2 separate regions of the Homo sapiens genome follow, and region 1 is linked to region 2. Evidence: fine-mapped expression QTL. Tissue or cell type: monocytes. Region 2 holds a variant in brackets; the other region holds the start of a gene. All regions are shown on one strand. Distances are from middle to middle. Region 1 holds the start of ASGR2 (asialoglycoprotein receptor 2). Region 2 overlaps LOC105371512 (a long non-coding RNA gene).

Evidence for each region.
Region 1: it holds the start of ASGR2, and the variant in region 2 is fine-mapped to the expression of ASGR2 in monocytes (Fairfax 2014, PIP 0.95).

What each region holds. Positions count from the first base shown.
Region 1 is chr17:7,113,297-7,116,044 of GRCh38, reverse strand. It overlaps ASGR2 (asialoglycoprotein receptor 2), which reads left to right and starts at 1,223. Exons shown (of 9, transcript NM_001201352.2): 1 at 1,223-1,430; 2 at 1,735-1,928. The coding sequence starts at 1,805. RefSeq lists an enhancer at 285-1,071.
Region 2 is chr17:7,136,944-7,139,951 of GRCh38, reverse strand. It overlaps LOC105371512 (a long non-coding RNA gene), which reads right to left. Exons shown (of 3, transcript XR_934191.3): 2 at 2,154-2,714. Among named protein-coding and RNA genes, the nearest start is that of ASGR2, 24 kb to the right of the region's middle. The variant A/G (reference allele first, on the strand shown) is at 1,641.

The sequences.
Region 1 (2,748 bases), 24 kb after region 2:
GTAGCCATCCGCCCAAGTTTGGTGAGGGTCAGAAAATCATGCACAAAAACTGTGTTTTCTTTCCCGAGCTATTGTTAGCGCAAGTGTAGACAGTCAGCCACGTTCCTTGCTTCATGGAAGCCAGTCTTCCTCGTAGGACCATGAAGACCTTTTCTTTTCTTTTTCTTTCTTTCTTTTTTTTTTCTTTGAGATGGAGTTTCTCTCTTGTTGCCCAGGCTGGAGTGCAATGGCGCAATCTTGGCTAATGCAACCTCCGCCTCCCAGGTTCAATCGATTCTCCTGCCTCAGCGTCCTGAGTAGCTGGGATTACAGGCCCCTGCCACCACGCCCGGCTAATTTTTGTATTTTAGTAGAGACAGAGTTTCACCATGTTGGCCAGGCTGGTCTCGAACTCCTGACCTCAGGTGATCCACCCACGTCGGCTTCCCAAAATGCTGGGATTACAGGCGTGAGCCACCGTGCCCGGCCAGACCTTTTGTTATGATGTTATTTTCCCCTCTTTACTCCATTTTGCTTTGCCAGTTTCTCTACTCACCTGGGCCACCACCTAGAGCAAGTTGCCTCATCTCTCCGAGGCTCCGCTTCCGAACCCTGTGAAATGGGAGTAACAGAAGTCCTGCCTCGTGGGGGTGTTGTGCTGTGATAAATGAAGAAACACCTTGGAGAATTTAGGGCAGTGGCTGGGCCTGAGGACAGTGTTTGTGTTGCCTGGGCTGGGGCAGGGTCTGGGCCGGACGGGGCTCTCTGAGGTTGGATTCCTCCTGCGAGGAGAGCTGTTTTTCTGCAAAGCCCCTTCCTCCTCCTGCTGAAGCTTCTGGATTTGAGAGGCTTTACTCTCCAGGAGAGTGAAGCGAGTTGGGCCAGAGCTGAGAGTCTGGTGGCCGAGCCCACAGGAAGCTGGGGTCTGTGGTTCAGATGCCGGATTGGGCAAGAGTAGAGAACTGGTCGCTGTGATCCTGGTCAGGGATATTTGGAGACACCCACAGTTCTGGTAAATTCGGAGGCAGGAAGTGAGAGGGGGAGGGAGAGAGGGAAACGGCAAACTGCACCCCAGCCCCTCCTGGCCTGGCACCCCTTCCAAATGGTGCAATGAGTGGGGTGAGTGGCGTGTGGAGTTGAGCGCAGCCCAGGGGACCCCCCTCTCTGGGAATAAGAACAGAGATAGCCCCGTCCCCTGCCCCCACCCCACAAATGAGTTACAGCTCTGTTTCCTCTTCTGTTTACTGTCCAAAGTCCCAGGCCAGGAGGTGCCAGGTTAGAGCTTGGACACTCAGACCCTCCAGTGCAGGCCTTGCCCGGACCAGCCCCTCCTCCACTCTCCTCTCCCCTGTGAGCTCCACCTGCCCCAGTTCTCCTGGCTTTAACCCCTCCTTGGCCAAGGCCAGGGTTGCCTGCGGGAGCCAGGTGTCCGCTCTCCACACCTTTCACAGGTAACTGAGGCTGGGGAGGCAACTGGGACGAGGATGCTTGGGAACAAGGAGGCCTTGGTTCAGGGATGGGGAGGACCCCATGGGAAGCTGTGGGTGGTCGGGTCCATGAGCGTGGGGAGGGGTCTCCTGGCCAGGTCAAGGCCCAAGCGGTCTCCTGAGAAGGGAAAGGACCCAGCGGGATTTCAAACCTCATCCCAAACGCCCTGCCAACCTCAGATCCTACCCAGGCCACCACCCCGAACCCCTCCGACCCTGCGTTCCATCCCACCATCAACCTCCACGTGAATCTGCACCTCTGCCCCAGCCCCAGCCCTCAGAGCAACCTCAGCCCAGCCCAGCCCAGCTCCAGCTCCAGCTCCAGCCCGGGCCCCATCATGGCCAAGGACTTTCAAGATATCCAGCAGCTGAGCTCGGAGGAAAATGACCATCCTTTCCATCAAGGTGAGGGGCCAGGCACTCGCAGGCTGAATCCCAGGAGAGGAAATCCATTTTTGAAAGGCAAGTGTGCAGTTTCTGCGGCTTTGCTCCCCCTCTGTCTCAGCTCATGATTGCTCTGTCCCTTTGAGGTCTCTGCCGCACCCACTCTGTGAACAGGGACTGAGGAGGGCCCGACACCCCCGCTTGTTCCCTCACCTCACCTTCCTGTCTACCCCAGGACCCCAGGAAAGGCATGTGCCAGAGGTGTGGGGAGATCTGGAAGATAACTGCCTGCCCTTCTCCTCCCAACCCAAGAACACATGTGCCTCGTATGTGCGTGTGCACGTATGTGCATATGAGGAATGCAGATTCAGCTGGGACTCTGTGTGTGTGTGTGAGTGAATGTTGTGTGTGTGTATATGTGCGCGAGAGCGTGCATATGTTGTGTGTGTGTATGTCGTGTATGTGAGAGGGTATGTTGTGTGTGAGAGTGTGTTGTGTGTGTATGTTGTGTGAGTATATGTTGTGTGTATCTTGTGTGTGAGTGTATGTTGTGTGTTGTGTGTGTATCTTGTGCATGTGTGTATGTTGTGCGAGTGTATGTTGTGTATGTGAGTGTGTGTATGTTGTGTGTATGTTGTGTGTATGTATGTTGTGTATGAGTGTGTGTATGTTGTGTGTGTGTACGTTGTGTATGTTGTGTGTGTGTTGTGTGTGTGTATTGTGTGAGTGTATGTATGTTTGTGTGTTGTGTGAGTGTTGTGTATGTTGTGCGTGTGTGTATGTTGTGCGAGTGTGTGTGTTGTGTGTGTATGTTGTGAGTGTGTTATGTATGTTGTGTGTGTGAGTGTGTTGCGTGAGTGTGTGTGTTAGTGTGTGTATGTGATTGTATGTGTGTGTG
Region 2 (3,008 bases):
ACCTCCAAATCAGACACTGCCTCCTCAAGCTCACCTATAACACCCAGTGCATTTCACCTCGGAGCCAGAAGACCGACTTGGGAGCCCCTCCCTCTCTGCAGGAGAGAGAGCTTTTCTTTCTCTTGCCTATTAAACCTCTGCTCTTAAACTCACTCGTCGTGTGTGCCTGCATCCTCAATTTCCTTGGCATGAGACGATGAACCTTGGGTATTACCTCAGACAACGAGCTTCAAAAGCTTAATGGAACAGACCGTCTACCCCTGTTGTGCCCTGCTTAGCTCTGTCCCGGAAGCCACTAGGCACCTAGGCTGTGACAGTTTCAGTCTTTAACCCCCAATGACAGCTTGCTCAGGGCACACCCAGTCCCTCCTTAGTGCTGCTGAGCAACTGCACCGTGTCCTCGGGCTCCAGAGGAAAAAACACTTCAGTTCATAGCCCTGCTCAGCAGAGGTCCTCAAAGCACATCTTCTCAGCCTCTATCTGGTGAGGGGGCACCTTCAGCCTGTGCCAAACGCGGCTTCCCTCACAAACCCTACCAGGCCTTAGCACTGATACAGGATTCTAGGGACTGAATGTTTCTGTCCTCCCCACCCCGGATTCATAGGTGGAAGCCCTACTCCACAGTGTGATGATATTTGGAGGTGGGGCCTTTGGGAGATAATTACATTTAGATGAGGTTGTGAGGGTGGGGTCCCCACGATAGGATTTGTGCCCTTGTTGGAAGAGAAGGAGGCCAGAGTGTGCTCTCTCATCCACGTGAGGACACAGCAAGAAGGTGGCTGTCTGTAAACCAGGAAGTGAGCCCTCCCCAGACACTGGATCTGCCGGTACCTTCACCTTGGGCTTCCTAGCCTCCAGAACTGTGAGAAAGAAATGTTTTTTTTTTGTTTAAGCCATTCAGTCCGTGGTGTTTTGCAATGGCAGTGCAAGCTGACTAAGACACAGGGTCACTTGTTCTATTTCCTCTTCAGTCATGATGGGCTTCCCTCGGGCCCTTTGGTGCCTTTCCCCGTCAGTGGACTTCAGCTAGAGCCTCTGTTCATCACAGAGGTTCTAAGGACATTAGATCTCCAAAAGAAAGGGACTAGGGTCTCAAATTTCTTTGCTTCACAGAAGCTTTTTGGCCCCACCTTTCAGTGACCTGTCTGCAAACCAAAACTGGCAAAGAAGGGCAGTCTCCCCTGAGCCACTGGAGAAGTCCTGCCTCCCCTGCCTGGGGTAGGCGACGGCTGGCTTCCCACTTAAACAGTTAAGGGGAGCTGCTCAGTGCTTACAAAGTCATTTGCTAACTTGCCTAGACAAAGAAGTTATTAGTAACTTTTACATGTCAGCTTGGGTAAACAAAACAAGTTTAAGTTCCTGTAATCAGGCAGCATGTTTTTATTATTATTATTATTATTTTATTATTTGAGATGAAGTATTGCTCTGTCGCCCAGGCTGGAGTGCAGCGGTGCAATCTCGGCTCACCACAAGCTCCGCCTCTCAGGTGCACACCATTCTCCTGTCTCGGCCTCCGGAGTAGCTGGGACTACCGGCGTCCGCCACCACGCCCGGCTAATTTTTTTGTATTTTTAGTAGAGACGGGGTGTTTCACCGTGTTAGCCTGGATGGTCTCCATCTGCTGACTTCGTGATCTGCCC[A/G]CCTCAGCCTCCCAAAGTGCTGGGATTACAGGCGTGAGCCACCGCGCCTGGCCACCATGTTTTATTATTAAAAGTTAATGGGGGCCGGGCATGGTGGCTCACGCCTGTAATCCCAGCACTTTGGGAGGTCGAAGCGGGCGCATCACCTGAGGTCAGGAGTTCGAGACCAGCCTGGCCAACGTGGTGAAACTCTGTCTCTACTAAAAACACCAAAATTAGCCGGGCATGGTGGTGGGTGCCTGTGGTCCCAGCTACTTGGAAGGCTGAGGGGGAAGAACTGCTTGCACTTGGAAAGCAGAGATTACAGTGAGCCAACATCGCGCCATTGCACTCCAGCCTGGGCGACAGAGTGAAACTCCATCTCAAAAACAAAACAAAAAAAGTTAATGGGAAGAAAAGCTATAGCCAGCAAAGGTCACAGGCAGGCTGGGTGGCTATGAGACCCCTCAGAGAGGCTGGGGCTGGGAAGGGGTGTAGGGAGGGTAGATTACATTCAGACTGACTCATGCTTACCTCAGGCTGTGAGATCCCAGCCCTCTGGGCAGATCCTGAGTCTGGAGCAGGCTTGGCTTATACCAGGTGGGGCTGGGAGACCCCTCCAGCAGGTCCCTGGAGGCCATGGCAGATGTAGCTGGGCCCAGAGCATTACATGCCATGAATGGGAGGAGAGCCGCCGTTCTGTTTGATTTTCTCTCAGCTCTCCTGTCCTTCTCAGCAAAATTAGTTTGAGCCTCTGCCTCAAAACTTGCAAAGTGAGGCTCTGAAACCCCGTCAGTGAAGATATGCTCGCATTTGGTCTTTAAGGAAATAGCTCTGAGGGACTCTCGAGGCAGTCTGTGAAGGAGGCAGGCTGCCAAGACACCGTAGGGTGATGCTGGGGGAAGAATCATCACTGGTAACCCCGATTGCAGGGAGCGGTGGTTGGCGGAATCCCCTGGCGGGAGGCGCTGTCTTCCCAGAGCAGGAGTACAGTGTCCTCTGGGTGGAGAGAACTCAGCAAGGCTGAGGGTGGGGTTGCTCAGCCTGTGCAGATTCCCTTACTTACTTGTCCCGTCTCCCCACTTCCTAATTTTACTATAAAAGAGGGAAGGAACACGAAAGTCTGTTAGGGCAGAGAGGCTGTGGATTGCATTTAGTGTATCAAGAGTAAAACTCAAGAAGCTCTTTTTCAAATAATCTTTTAAATTTGGGGCTTATAAATGCAATCGTCCTGGTTTCTGAACTCCATGTAATAGATCTGGGGATGAAACAGAAGCTATCACGGTCTCAGGCCAAGCTGCCTCAACACCTTTAGGGGCTTCGCAAGCCTTTTTCGACTCTAAGATGTGAACCAGAAAGTGTTTTTGTGATTCAGGCTAGGATGTCTTA